Regions from separate parts of the Homo sapiens genome. Here regions 1 and 3 are each linked to region 2. The links come from fine-mapping of genetic effects on gene expression. A gene starts in region 2. Each other region holds a variant in brackets. All regions are shown on one strand. Distances are from middle to middle. Region 1 overlaps TANC2 (tetratricopeptide repeat, ankyrin repeat and coiled-coil containing 2). Region 2 holds the start of TANC2 (tetratricopeptide repeat, ankyrin repeat and coiled-coil containing 2). Region 3 overlaps TANC2 (tetratricopeptide repeat, ankyrin repeat and coiled-coil containing 2).

Evidence for each region. PIP is the estimated chance that this variant, and not a neighbour inherited with it, causes the effect.
Region 1: its variant is the best candidate, but not a certain one, in a credible set for the expression of TANC2 in whole blood (INTERVAL, PIP 0.79).
Region 3: its variant is the best candidate, but not a certain one, in a credible set for the expression of TANC2 in whole blood (Lepik 2017, PIP 0.56).

What each region holds. Positions count from the first base shown.
Region 1 is chr17:63,355,374-63,360,602 of GRCh38, reverse strand. It overlaps TANC2 (tetratricopeptide repeat, ankyrin repeat and coiled-coil containing 2), which reads right to left. Exons shown (of 28, transcript NM_001394998.1): 14 at 5,213-5,229. Among named protein-coding and RNA genes, the nearest start is that of CYB561, 88 kb to the left of the region's middle. The variant TCTCA/A (reference allele first, on the strand shown) is at 2,247.
Region 2 is chr17:62,964,226-62,969,454 of GRCh38, reverse strand. It overlaps TANC2 (tetratricopeptide repeat, ankyrin repeat and coiled-coil containing 2), which reads right to left and starts at 3,220. Exons shown (of 28, transcript NM_001394998.1): 1 at 2,706-3,220. RefSeq lists a silencer at 3,144-3,333.
Region 3 is chr17:62,998,974-63,004,202 of GRCh38, reverse strand. All of the region lies in intron 1 of TANC2 (tetratricopeptide repeat, ankyrin repeat and coiled-coil containing 2), which reads right to left. Among named protein-coding and RNA genes, the nearest start is that of TANC2, 35 kb to the right of the region's middle. The variant G/C (reference allele first, on the strand shown) is at 2,594.

The sequences.
Region 1 (5,229 bases), 390 kb before region 2:
GGATATTTTACCCTGATGTGATTATTACACACTGCATGCCTATATCAAAATATCTCATGTAACCATATATATATATATGTATGTATGTATATACCATGTACCCACAAAAATTAAAAATTAAAAAAAAATTGAAAGTGTGAATAAAAGATGTCTGGTACATTCTCTTTTCTCTGCTTTAACTCTTCCAAGCCTCCTAAGGGTTGATTTAGTTCTAAGAGGCCCTTTTTCCTTCCCATGCTTCATCATTTTGCTGAATTCTCTCCTAATGCTTTGAGAAAGCAGAACCCATCCTCCAGTTTAAGGGTCTGCTCTGGGAGCCTGCAATGGCTATCAGGAGCAGTGACCTCAAGTTTGTGCTTCAGTGAGGGTAAGGTTAATTGTCATCTTGCCTGGAGGCTCATATTTAGATTTAAAAAACAAAATCAACACAAACTTCAACTCACCATTTATTTTGTAGTCATTTCAACCCCATCTATTCTATAAGAAGCCCTGTTATACAGACCTCTGGCACAGTTATTTTTCACTTTGGGGAGGACACCCTCTCTTTTTCCTTAGACAAACTGCTTGTTCTCTGACACCCTGCTTTGTGGCAATGGATTTTGGAGCATCAGGTCTCCAACGTGTAATTCACTTACTAATATGGTCAAATAAATTAGGAAAAACCTCGACAAACCACTTATTATAAGCAATCAATTCTGGTCATAAAGAATCAAGTAAGTACTCAACTATCCCATGGTATAGGTAGGATTTGTGTCGCCTTTTCCCTTTCCATTCATCACAGGATTTGCTGTCTTTAATTTGAGGAAATCAGGTCAAACCAAATTAGGCTCCCACATCACAACCTTAGGCTCCCACATCACAATCTCATTAGGTTGTATCAACTCAACACTCATTACATGAAGTTCACAACAAGCTTCTTGTATCTTATTCAAACATTTAAAAATAAGGCTGGCTAGGCTGGGCACGGTGGCTTATGCCTGTAATCCTAGCACTTTGGGAGGCTGAGGTGGGCAGACCACCTGAGGTCAGGAGTACGAGACCAGCCTGGCCAAATTGGTGAAACTCCGTCTCTACTAAAAATACAAAAAAGTTAGCCGGGCAAGGTAGCAGGTACCTGTAATATCCCAGCTACTTGGGAGGCTGAGGCAGGAGAATTGCTTGAACTCAGGAGGCAGAGGTTGCAGTGATGTGAAATCGCATCACTGCACTCTAGCCTGGGTGACAGGACACTCTGTCTCGAAAAAAAAAAAAAAATGCTGGTGCAGTAGCTCATCCCTGTAATCCCAGCACTTTGGGAGGACAAGGTGGGTGGATGGCTTGAACCTGAGTTTGAGACCAGGAACACAGTAAGACTCTTTCTCTACAAACAAAAAAAATTAGGCATGGTGGCATGTGCCTGTGGTCACAGTTACACAGGAAGCTAAGGTAGGAGGATTGCCAGAGCCCAGGAGGTTGAGACTTCAGTGAGCCGTGACTGTGCCACTGCACTCCAGCCTGAGTGACAGAGTGAGATACTGTATTAAAAAAATAAAAACAAACCCCACAAAAATACACACATAATAACGCAGTAGTCTTTTAATCTCTGGCAAAATCTTACACACACACACACACACACACACACACACAAATATTAATCTGAGAGCCGTTCCTATGGAAGGGAAAGTTAGATATCATGAAAATTGAGAAAATGAGGAATAGAAACAGAACAGAGTGGAGATTTATTCAGGGCGAGCCTAAAGCGATATAGAAATATTAAGCAGTAACTGGACTGCACCACAAGGCTGGTAGCTCCGACTGTCTACTCTATCAGCCTTAAATTTCTACTATGAGAGTCACTAAAAGGTTGCCTAACAAAGGCCGATGACTACTTCTCTCAAATGTCTTATTTTAAATGCACAAGTTGCCTCAAATAGGTTTTCCATCTCTTTACTATTAGCATAATAGCAGGAATTCGCTTATTAAATTAGTGAGTTAATCTGATATCTCCGTGCCCAAGAGAATAAAACATAGGACAGATTAAGTTCAGGGTATGTCAGAAGGCTGACAGTGATGAACAGTGGGAAACAGAGAGCAGAATGAGGTGGTATGGTCTAAGGTTTGTGATTGCTTCAAGGGGCATATTTTACCTAAACTGCAAATCTAAAAGATTCTTCAGTGATACTCTGCTTACAGTTTGATACACACACACATACACACACACACACACACACACACACACACACATACTCTCTCTCTCTCTCTCTCTC[TCTCA/A]CTCTACTCACCTTGTTACTCATTTATTTCTATGACAATGAGACAACGATACATCTATGTAACGTTAGGTCATTCTCTCTGGTAGGTCAAGTCCTTGCCCAGATTCTGAGACAATAAGCAGTCTGGTATTCAAAATAATGAAAACTCAATCTCAGCTGTAGCATTAACCTCTGGCTCTGCTATTTCCTGCTTCCAGCACCATTCTCAGATTACTGACTCTTTTCAGCTCAGGCAGAAGCAACCTCCTTGGGTAGCCTATTTCTGGAGAAGATCAACTACTTTTTGGCAATTGAGTGCTGAAAGCCCAGGAAAATGGACTAAAAAGGGTAAGAATGTTGTGTTGCCTCTGGAAGCTCTCCTTACACCACAGAGATGTACATGTCAGGCACTGGCTTACCTGGTGTGATTTCAGAGGCACTGAATTGGTCTTCTTTGATCTACTGAAAGATGCTTTAGAGAGAAGGAGAGAAAGTGGAGAACAGAAGGAGAAACAATGTGCAAGAAGTGGAGGCTGAAGGCCACAAAGACAAACCATGCCTGGAGAGAGTCCTGCTAATCAGACCTGCCTGAAATGGAAAACAAGTGCAGCCAGCTGCTTTGAAAGACCAGCTTGGGCTTTGCCAATAGCATTAAATTCTTAGTGAATTTCCATCTCATTGACCTAGGGAGCCTTAAGCACTGAGATCAATACTTCAGTACTTTAGTAACAAGGTTGGTGCCAGCCATTGCTGGGGAGGGGGCTGAGTTCCAACTGAAATGAAATCTAAGAAAGCTTTTTTTGATAACTCCTGGTCCTGTTTACAATTTTACTCTCTGCCATTAAGTGAAATAAGATGATCTCTCAGCAGCCATGCTATTCAATCATCAGGGAACGGATTATACAGGATTTGAAGTTGGAAGTACCTGCTCCTCTTGTCCCAGTGCATCAGTCGGTTGCTGCAAAACTCCTAGTTAAAATGCGATGTTGAGAAGGCAAAGCCTGTATAGTCATGATATGGCTGTATAAAAGCCGTATTTTCTCCTCTGAGAGCCCCTGAGGATTTCATCTGTTGTAAGGATACTATTAATTCAGTGGTAGTCTGGTTGCCTTGGACCTCAGCTTTCAATCCTCTGAGATGTCCCAGGATCTAAGGTCCCAGATCAGCTAGCAAAGTTTCTCTGGGAACTGATCTCAAAGCGTTTATTAGGCAATTCTACATTAGTTTCTTTTTCCTATATACATAGTTGCCAGTTCTTTGTATTAAATATTGACAACAGCTCTAGTAGGATTTATAGTAAAATCCTTTTGGGAACATCATACAATTCACAGAAGGGACTTGGATTGTTTTTATTGTTTCTTTTTAAAATCTTGTGCTCCAAAATGATAACAGCAGAAGATGGCTGTCGCTATCCGATTAGCCACAGGATTTAACTAAGATACACCAGAAGGGTCTATTACTGCAGGGTGAGGGGAGGAAAAAGAACATACCCCAAGTGTTTCTTTTACTCTGTACTATTCTAGGCATCATACTATATGACCTCACTTAACTTCTCAACAACTCTAGAAAAAAGGCATTATTATTGCTCTTATGTAGATAAGAAAACTAAGTCTTAGAAACACTATGTAACTTTTTCCAAAGGTCAAAGTTCCTAGAAGAGGCAGGATTTATATGCAGGTAATTTGACTCAAGAGTTTATGTTCTTTCCACTACAGCATGTTTCTTTAAAAAAGCTTCCCTCTCAGAGAAAATGCTACAAAGTCTATTGCCTGGCTTAATATCTTCATCATAATCTGGAACTAATTTTCTGATGAATCAGCATGGAGTAGGCTGAGCAGCATGCCCACAGTACAGTTGTCTCTAATAAGGCCTGGTGAAGGACACGGTGAAGGGCAATAAAACCCCAGCATGAACACAGAGTTTTATTCTTTCTGATGAGTCACATGTGAGGCATAGTCAAATCTGGCCTCTTCTTTTTGAGCCAAAATAAGCTCTGCATTTGCCAGCTATGTTGTTGGTGTCTTCTTTGTTTCCATGAAGTCAGTAATGTACCCGGCTTTTGAAAACACCAACTTTATTAAAGGAATACGTCTTTAAAAATGTTAGTATGACGGAGTAAAAGCACACCCCGACCAGGATGCCAGAGAACTAGGTTTCATGCAATAAAAAGGGAAACAGTTTCATATCTAGTCTGGTTTGAGTTGAGAAAGATTCTCAAGTCAGGTTCAAGCTCATTGGGAAAGAGTGCTGGGGTAAATCAGTGATCCTGTTGTGCGTGTGGGGTGGGGAGTGGTGGGATATATCATGCACTTGTGATCCCTATTCTGGTGTGTGCCCCTCCCTTCTCCCATGTATTAACCTTATGACTTTGTGCAAGTTGATCCAGCATCTTAAGGCCTTTATAGCAAAATGGAGATAATGACACCTTACGTATCTAAAGGCAGCATGGATAGACCAGCTGATCTCTTCAAATCTTTTTCAGCTAGGAGGTTTAAGATTGTATTTTCTAGTATAAAGCTTAGCATTGGCTGGACTTTAATGGATTTAGTCACTGGAAACTTTAAAAATGATAAGGTTTTATAAAAGGGCAATAAAAACTTTGAAATGATTCTGCCCTAAATCAAAGAGATTTACAATATATCAATTCTTTCTTCATATCAGAATAATAATACTGAGGAAGTCCATTAAATGGTTAACTTAATTATAGCCTGTGAACCCTGTGGGGTCAGTGAAAATTATTTAGAAGAACACAGGAACGTAGGATAGCATTCTAAATATCTATGCAGATGTTGAGTCTTAAGGAAATAACATTGTAAAACAATAAATTAGTTAACCTCATTATAGCCTTGCCTTGAGAAGAAACACAGATGATGTCTCTTCTATGTGAAATGTTCAATGAAGAACACTTCTACTTTCAATACTCACACTCCATGCAATAAACAGAAAACAGACTCAGAATTGTTTATCACAGATATATGTCTTACCTCGGATCACAGAGAAA
Region 2 (5,229 bases):
ACTTGCTTTATGATGGGCACATGCATTTTAATTATGCCTTGCCAATACTACCTTGAGTGAGAGGGCAATATAGCATATTGATGAGGAGCACAGGTTCTGGAGCTAGCATTCCTAAATGGAAACTTAGCTCTTCTACTTCTCAGCTATATAGTATTGGGCAAGTTATTTAACCTCTCTGTGTTTCAGATTCTCATCTGTAAAACAGAAATAACAACACATACCTCATAGGGTGTTGGAACTGATTAAAACAACGTACAACGGGACTGGCAAAGAATAGGTGCTACATAAATGTGAGCTGTTACTACTAGTACAGCTGGCCCTTGAACAACATGGGCTTAAACTGTGCTGGTCTACTCCTATGCAGATTTTTTTCAAGCAATACAGTATTCATGGGATGCAAAAACCGAGTATATTGAGGGCCGACTTTTCCCTATACATGGTTCCATACACCAACTGCGGGATTTGAGCATGCAAGGATTTTGGCATATGTGGGGGTCCTGGAACCAATCCCCTGCATACAATAAGGGAAGAATGTAGTAGTAATTGTATTGCACCCTCTTCCTGAAAGTACCAAAAACATTCTTAAGCAATCTGAATTCCTAACATCAAATGCTACCTATATTTAAAATAGACACCAAATCTGAGGCCTGATTAACAGTAAGTTTAAAGCCCTTCAACTCTGAAGAAAATAGGTGATTCACAGATCTACATAATACTCTATCAAGAACAATCTGAGAGGACTGGTTCCCCGAGCGCAACTATCAATTTCTTCCCTTACACAAGGGGGCAGTGATAACAAGAAAAGAATCGGGCTCTGTAACACCTCTTCCTACAGACAGTAGGGGGTGGCAGTACATATGGCTTACAGTCAGAACAAAACAGGAAGACCCAACAGAATTCTCTTTATTCTCCTCTGGCCCTTTCCTCTGTTCTTCAGCCCCAACAGCTTCTCAAGGTAAGGGACATATCTACAGAAAAGACTAAAACCCAAAATCAATCACCAAGGAAAATCTATTTTTGTCTTTGAAGCAAATGATCCCTCAATGGCTGAATTTGGATCTAAGGGAAAGCCAATCAGTATGAATTTTCAGATTATCTGGCAAATTACTATAATGAGAACAGCATTCACACATGTAATTTAATTTCTTTACAAGAATTATAACATAAAACATTAAAATCTCATCAATAATTAAGTACATTCTAACGAACACATTTCCATATTTCTGCTTTTGTTATATAGTATATTCACACTCATTGTATGTATACATATAAGTTACATTAAATAGATCATGGAGTTGTCTTTTGTTACTTCTGAAATTCCAGCTATGTTCTGACAATCCTCTCGAAACAGATGTTCTTAAATGGAAGTCACAATGTTTTGCAGCATGTTGGTAATTTCTTATGTATGTATAATATACATGCACATATATCTATATAGAGACATAAATAAATATCTAGATACAGAGGGGAGCAAGAGAGAGGGAGAAAGAGAATGTTTAACGTTTTATTTCGTGCTCACATCCCTAAGAGGATCTACCTGGGAAATGCTGCAAGAAGCACTCCACTGACAGTATCCATGTTGTTGCTTTTTATGCCAATTTACTGTATTCTTTTTTTTTTTTATTTCACCATCCCAACACCAAGAACATACAAGAATATTTTAGTACTGCCGTTCTCTATAATTAACCATTGTGATAGATACTGGCTCCAACCCCTCAAAATGCCTGAAAATCTATCCCTTTTGTTCACCACACTGCTTTGTTTTCCTCATTACAGATATTTTCACCTGTGTAAAAATCAGGAAAAGGGCACATACGAAAAATACTTCCCTTTGCCTAATGATCTTTAACTCATAATTATGGTCAAGACGTTTGGGGTTTTGTTTGTTTCTTTTCCTGGAGAGGAGCAGAGAAGAGAGTGAAAGACACCCGAAACACCAAATCTTCTTCCTAATGTTAATTATCATTGTTTATGTTTTGTGAAGACCATTCTAAACATTCCACACCTGGAAATGAAGACTGGATACAATTGTACCAATGCTCTACACGCTGATGGCAAAACCTGGAATTATTTTAGCCCTATTTTTTCTTTCCAATCTCACAGCCAGACACAATTTGCTTTTTTTCTTTCACGTGGTTACTTTCTCTACCTCAAAAAAAATAGCTTATCATAGCTCCTCCCGATTTCCTATGGCAAAATATCTAGCAATGAGCCTTATTAATCTTTTATTATGCTACACCTCCTTTCCCAGAGGAATTATTAATATCGCTAATAACACTTCGACCATGAATTTCAACGCCACAGAGGCCAGCCCATCCTGTGCCTTACCTGGCACATTTCGCAACTACTTTTATGCTGCATTCTGGGGGCACATTTTGCAACTCGTTCTGCACCACATTCCCTGCCACGTTTAGCAATCCGCCTCGCATCTTATCCTTGGTCCCCGTCATCCAGAGACGCTCTAGGTACCAAATTCCATGACATCTTCGGTGACAGCCAAGTGGCGACCCCACACGCCTCTGAAGCCCGCCTTGGTGTCATATTCGGAGCCAGCCTTCCCCACGCCTTGGACACCGAGGCACTTCGCTGCCCATTTCGCCGTCTCCCCGCTCGCCCCCGCCCCTCTCCCCGGAGCCGAGGCTGTGGAGGCGAACGACCCTGTCACTGAAGCGACCTTTCCTCGCCCTGCTCCCCGGGCCCCTTACCTGCCGCTCTGAGGGGCTCTCTGCACCTCCGGGTCAAGCCCCAGTCCCCGGGGTCTCCTGTGAGGACCGCGCCGCCCGCCGGCGCCGCCCGCGATTCCCGGAGCACCTCGCAGTCCTCCAACGCCCCGCGGCGAGTCTGCACCCCGGAACGGCGCGGCGGGGCCTCGCAGCCGGCGAGCGCAGCCCGCGGCGGTGCTCCTGTCAGCGGCGGCTCGGGGGCCAGCTCTCGCCCCTCGGCTCGGCTCGGCGGCGGCGGGCGCCTCGCTCCGCCTAGCGCGCGGCACAGCCGGGAGGTGAGCGCGAGGGGGATGGGAATGGGGGCGGGGCCGCCCGAAGGAGGCGCGGAGGGCGGTGGCGGCGGGAGGGCAGCGCCAGCGGCCCTAGGCCGGGCGCTCGGAGCGCTCGCAGCTTCCCCCGCCGGGCGGGCGGCTCGCGCGAGGCGGCTGTGCCAGCGGGCCCCGCCGGAGCAGCGCGCCCAGCAACCCGCGCCCCGCCGGCCGCTCGCTAGCGCCGCCGCCGCGCTGGGGGCGTCGCACCCTCTGAGGCCGCCCGCAGCCCCGCCCCCTCCGGGCTGGGGTGGGGAGGGGCGCGAGCGCGGAGGGAGCGCGCGTGCGTGGGGGCGCGTGCGTGGTGGAGCGCGCGCGCCCCCGCCCCTTCCACAGTTTGGGGGTGGGGAACGGCTGGAAGAGGGAGTGGGGACGCAGCCCTCCTCCGCGCGGAGAGACGGGGCCCTGGCTCTGGCGCTCTGGGATGTCCTGGCATTTCTCGTATCCCCGGGGGGCTCGGACTTGTGGGTGGCATTTGGAGGGGCAGCAGGGAGGACGCTCGGTAACTGACAAGGCCCTACATAGTTGGGCTCCGCCCTCAGGGGTGATGTCACTCTCGAGGTGGCTGCTGCTGTCACGTGCGCCCATTTCAGGGCCTGTCCTCCTGCTTTGATGACCGGAATGCTCTCCTAGATCTCCCCCACTTCGGTCACCTCAGGCACATATCACTCTGAGAGTCCTCGAAGCCTACAAGTGTCAGTTATTCTTTCCCGGATTCTCAGTGGTAGTTTGTAGACGACTTCAAAAGGCCACGGTTGGCTGTGGGGAGAATCAGAATGAGAAAGAAAAACAAAACAACAGTGGGGTTTGTGGGGAGACCGAGACTGTTATTTAGAATAATGGCTGAAAATTCACCAACCACAGCTTGCAAACCTGAGGTAAAGTCGTGGCGCTGCTTCTGTCACTGCCAGGTTGACTAAGAAGTAGCGTGGTTTTAAGAGCTGGTCGACAAGGGCGGGAAAGCCACCACATTAATACCTCGTCGAACGATGTTAGGTCATATTTCACCCTCCACCTAGATCTTCTTCCCCTCTACTGTTTCCCTCCTATCATAAAACAGCAAGTCGGCTGTGGGAGGTATTTGGGACATAAACATCATCGCGTGCTGCAAGATGATGCGAAGCAATCACCGTTACCAACTCTGCCCGGCTCGCCTTCCCTTCCATAAACTGAGATGACCTTTCGTGGTCATCCAACTTCTTAATCAGATGACATGATTGGAAATAGATGCGCCAAATTACATCAATCAAGGAAGCTCTGTCTGTGGCGCTTCCAAGGTAGAGAGGTTTGTTTGATAACAGCACTTTAATCTGCCCCATCCTGTAGCACTTCATCCAGGAGTTTCTTCGATTTTCAAAAATTAGTATTAATTTCAGAACAATACAAGAAACTGGATATGAACATGTCCATCCAACAGCTCTTCTTTACAGTGAATGCTTGCAAAGTCAGAGCTAGAGCAGCTTTGAATAATACAGCTAACATGGCAAGGTGAAGGGCTGACATATGGAATCTTTTGGTGTTAACTCCAGAAAGTTAGATTAATCTAATGAAAACCCATCTACCTATGGTATTAGAGGCAAGGTAGTGATTACTTACAGGGGAATTGATTGAGAGGGGACAGGAGAGAGCCTTCTGGTTTGCTGGAAATATTCAATATCTTAATGGTTACCCGGGTGTATACATATGCAAAAAGATCTGTGCACTTCATGTCAGTTTTTTAAAATCACATACACACAAAGAAGCATTACAATGTCATCATCACTGCAGTCGGAAAACCTCAGTTTGAATCTCAGTGTCACCCAACACTTACCTGCTGTGTGACCTTGAACAGGTCTCCGGACCTTCCTTTCTTCATCTGTCTAACGTGGGTGATATTAATACTTACCTCACAGATGGATGTAAAGATGAAACAAAATTTTGGAAAATACTTAGCACAAATCCTGTTACACAATAAGGACTCAGGAAACAGGAGCTATTATGTTATCCTTCTTACACTTGAATTTACCCTATTTAATTCTCCTTCGGTCTTTTTTTTTTTTTTTTTTAAGATTACTTTCTATCTAAGCCTTTCCCTGCGAGTTCCACTGAGGCTAATAACATTCCTTCTCTGAGAAATAACAAAAGGCAGTCAGGGGTGTAATGTTGGTTTTCAAACTAGTTCAGGTGGCAGTCTCTAGAAATTATGGTGCTCAACGTGG
Region 3 (5,229 bases), 35 kb before region 2:
ATCTTCAGATAAATTTTGCCATTTTCATTTCGCTACCTGAAAGTCAGGGCTGGCTCATGAAAAGTTGTTAAACAACAGCTAAATGTGAAATGTCAACCCTCCCTCTAAACTTTCCCTGTTCTGAGCATCAAATGAAGACTTCATGGGTTTTATAGTGGCTTTCTGATTTTTGGTGGTCCATCAAAGAAGGAGTCTGAAAGTTGTTGTACACTGTTAATGATTGTCTGCCCATGTCCTGCCTGAAATACCATGACTGTTTCTGGGAAGTATCTTCAAGAAAGCAGAGTACAGTTTGAAAAAAAACAAACAAATTAAAAAACAGACTGTCTCACTATTTACAGGTAGACAAAGGATTCTTAGGAACATAGAAAGCAACAGCCACTTAAAAAAACATATATTTGGAGGTTATTAAAAATTTAAAAACATCTGCTAAGATAACATTAAAGAAAACAGGCAAGCCACAAACTGGGAAAAATTATTCACAAAACATATATAACACAGGACTTACATCCAAGATACAGTAGTCCCCCTTTATCTGCAGTTTTGCTTTCCATGGTTTCGGTTACCTGCAGTCTAAAAATATTACATGGAAAACTGCAGAAATAATTCATGTTTTAAATTACACACCATTCTAAGTAGCCTGATGAAATCTCACACCATCCTGCTCCATCCTGCCTGGGAGGTAAAACATCCCTTTGTCTAGTTTATCCAAGCTGTATATGCCACCTGACCACTGGTCAATTAGCAGCCACCCTGGTTATCAGATCAGTTACTGCATATAGCGTGTACAGGATTTGGTACTGTCATTTCAGGCATCCACTGTGGGGTGTGTCTTGGAATGTGGATACGGAGGGACTACTGTATATAAAGAACACCTACAACTCAGTAATAAAGAGACAATCGATTTTCAAATGGGTAAAAGATTTGAACAGGTAGTTTCAAAAAGTAGATATATAAATGACCCACACCCAAATTATAAGGGCTCAACATTATATGTCATTGCAGAAATACAAATTATAATTAGCTATCCACTATACTCCCACCAGAAGAGCTAACTTTAAAAAGTTTGACAATATCAAATATTGATCACAATGAAGAGTAATTTAAATTCCAACACACTATTTTAGGAGTATAAAATGGTACAATGGCTTTGGAGAAAAATATAGCTGTTTATTATGAAACTTACTGTACACCTAATGCATGACTCCACCTCTACTATTTACCCAAGAGAAATTAAAACATATATGCATAATGAAAAGACTAGTACAACAATTTTCATAACAGATTTATAATACCCTATACCTAGACTAGGTGTCCATCAACAGACGAATAAACTATGGGATATTCACAAAGAGGAATATTACTCAGCAAGAAAAAGGAATGAACTACTCATACAGTCAACACAGATAAATCACAACATATAATATGCCAAGTGAAAGAACCTTTACATAGAAGCATATGCATTGCATTATTACATTTATACCAACTTCAAGAATAATCTATGCCAAAAAAATCAGAATAATGGTTGTCTCTTGGGGGTAGATATGGGGATCAACTTAGAAATGGCACGAGGAACCTTTCTAGGATGATGGTAATATTCTATATGTTTTGAAGATGATTACTTTTTTCAAATGAAAAATGTAAACAAATGCTAAAATCCACTTAATGATATTCATGCTTAAATAGGAGAAAGCATATAGATGTCTGCAGATTATTACTTTGAAATGCATCAAAAAATAAGGTGGATTGATGGACTGATGGAGGCATAGAGAGGCAGATATGTGATGAATTATAACAAAATAAAATGTTAACAGTAAACTGTAAGTAGTGGATATACATGCGATAACTAAAACTATTTAAAATGTAAATAACTGAGCTGTTAATGGCTTGGAGATGCTCCCCCACTTCTCCAGAGAACTGCCTTTGGCTAACTGGCACCATCTTGCCCAGAAAGCTTCATGCCTTACTACTTCTACCCTAGAGAGGTTCTCAGTCAATGACTAATTATTAATCATTGAGATACAAAAGACCAGCTTCCTTAATTCCAGGGGAGGGCAACTCTGTGGTATGATTTATGCTCCAAAACCGTCACCCATAACTTCTTATGTGTTCTTCCCCAAATACTTACCTCCAAAAGACATCTTATATACCTGATTGTCTTATCAGTTTCCCTACTAGAATATAAGCTCCAGGAGGGAAGAGAAGATGCCTGTTTAATTCATTGCTACAGCCCTGTAAATGGAAAATAATACTTGATACACAGGAAGTGCTAAATATTTGCTGAATTTATCAATTACATATTTTTGTTTGTATACCATTGTCCATATCAAATCCCTTATAAAGAAATCTGGTCTTGACCAGGCGCAGTGGCTTATACCTGTAATCTCAACACTTTGGGAGGTAGAGGCGGGCAGATCACTTGAGGTCAGCAGTTCAAGACCAGCCTGGCCAATGTGGTGAAACCCTGTCTCTACTAAAAAATACAAAAAAGTTAGCCGGGCATGCTGGCATGCACCTGTAGTCCCAGCTACTTGGGAGTCTGAAGCAGGAGAATCGCTTGAACCCGGATGGCAAAGGGTGCAGCGAGCTGCCA[G/C]AGGACTCCAGCCTGGGCAACAGAGGGAGACTCCATCTTGGAAAAAAAAAAAGAAAGAAAGAAAAAGAAAAAAAAAAAAGAAAAGAAAAGAAAAACGAAAAGGAAACCTGGTCTTATTAATCTTTTTAACCACAACACCTAGTTCATGGTAGGCTCTCAACATTTCTTGAATGAGTAAATAAACTGAGCAAAGACACAATTCATCAGATTTACTGACTTAGTAAAGAAGGGGCATAATAAAAGTAAGTTTCATTGAGCGAGAAATGATTTTAAATCAACCAGAACAATGAGGACTACCTAGAATGAATGTGTACCAGGGAATCAAGAAAAGGCATGAAAATTGTAGGAATAGTTCAAAATTTTATCTGAGGGAAAACCAAGAATATTCTAGGCTTACTTAGAACTTCTAACTCAAACTCTGATTATTTACACATAGTTGTTCAAAGTTTTGAAAGGAAAAAAATGAGTGCAGATTATCATTATCATAAAAACAGCAACTTATTACTTAAAATTTACTAAGAGTCAAAAAAAGACCAGGAGAACATACTTAAGTTGATTTAGGTAAAATATTTTGGTGGGTGGCATAAATTATAGTGATGGCTACTTCTTGAAGATATAGAGGGTTTTTTTTTTTTTTTTTTGCTAGTTCTAAAACTTTTTTAATTACTTCAATATATAGAAAAGTAAAACATAAAGCTACTCATCTCATAGTTACATTTTGATTAAATGATTTTCCTCAAGTTAACATACCAATAGAAAACTGATCATAATAAAATATTAATATAGAAATTCCACAAATTGAAGCTAAGTGGGAGAAGGCAGTTTGGTCTAATTGACACTAATGTAAATCTAAATTTTACCCTGCTTTTCCAAATTTTGCATCCAAATTTTAAGATGTTCACTCTCTCAGGAGGAATCATCAGATACATCCCTGGCAAGTGAAATATCTGGACAGGAAAATAACAAGCCATTGACAGGCCCCCAATCATTTCTAATTTTCTTACACTTAGCTGATTTGAACATTATGTTATCTACATGGTCCCTAAGCTTTTATGTTTGTGACACTCATTCTAAACCATTCAGGAGAAGTAATGACTTCTTAATGGTCCACTAAGGCTGGAGACTCAACAACCTATTTCAATGTCTTCTTCTGCTATATTATTAACAGGCAATCAATTTTCATTTTCAATGTTCATCCCTCCTGTATATTTAAAGCCCTTTTCTTATCCTGTTGTTTAAAAAAAGTAAAACATCCCATGCATAAAAATGTTTATGTAATTAATAATGTAATCAAATTAACTATTAAGTACTTCTGTACTATTTTGATGATCATGACATCCTGTTAATATTTCCATTCTAATGCCAGCTTTTTATTTTAACTTATTGTAGATTCAAGGGGACATGGGCAGATTTGTTTTCTTGGTAAAATGCGTGTGACAGGGTTTGGCGTACAGATTTTGTCACTCAGGTAATAAACACAGTATCTAATAGGTAATTTTTTGATCCTCACCTTCCACACCCCTCCATCCTCAAGTAGGCCCTGGTGTGTGTTCTTCCTTTCTTTGTGTCCATGCGTGCTCAGTGTTTAGCTCCCACTTGTCAGAACATAAAGTAATTGTTTTCTGTTCCTGCATTAGTGTGCTTAGGATAATGGCCTCCAGCTCCTCTGTCCATGTTGCTGCAAAGGACATGATCTCATTCTTTTATGCCTGCATAGTATTACATGGTGCATATATACATTTTCTTTATCCAGTCTACCGCTGATGAGCATTTAGGTTGATTTCATGATGTTGCTATTGTGAACAGAGCTATGATGAACATCCAAGCACATGCGTTTTTGGTAGAACAATTTACATTGCTTTGGGCATATACCAGGGATGTCCAATCTTTTGGCTTTCCCGGGCCACAGTGGAAGAAGAATTATCTTAGGCCACACATAAAACACATTGATGCTAATAATAGTTGATTAGCTAAAAAAAAAAAAGTTACAAAAAAAATCTCATAATGTTTTAAGAAAGCTTACAAATTTGTGTTGGTTATCTAAGTCTCTAAGTAATTTGTTTTATGAATTTGGGTGCCCCTGTGTTGGGTGCACATACGTTTAAAATAGTTAGGTCTTCCTGTTGAACTGAATCCTTTGCCATTATGTAATGCCTTTTTGTCTCTTTTGACCATTGTTGGTTTAAAGTCTGTGTATTAGGCTGTTCTTGCACTACTATAAATACCTGAGTCTAGGTAATTTATAAGAAAAGAGGTTTAATTGGCTTGCAGTTCTGCAGGCTGTACAGGAAGCACAGCTCCACCACCTGCTTCTGGGGAGGCCTCAGGAAGCTTTTACTCATGGCAGGTGAAGCAGGAGCAGCCACATGAAGTGGCCAGAGCAGGAGTGAGAGACAGTGTGTGTTGGGGGGAGGTGCCACAGACTTTCAAATGACCACATCTCTCAAGAGCTGACTCACTACTGTAAAGGTAGCACCAAGACATGAGGGATCTGCTCCCATGACCCAAATACCTCCCACAAGGCCCTGCCGCACTTCCAGCATTGGGGATTACCATTTAACATGAAATTTGGGCAGGGGCAAATATCCAAACTATATCAGTCTGCTTTGTCTGAAATTAGAATAGGAATCCCTGCT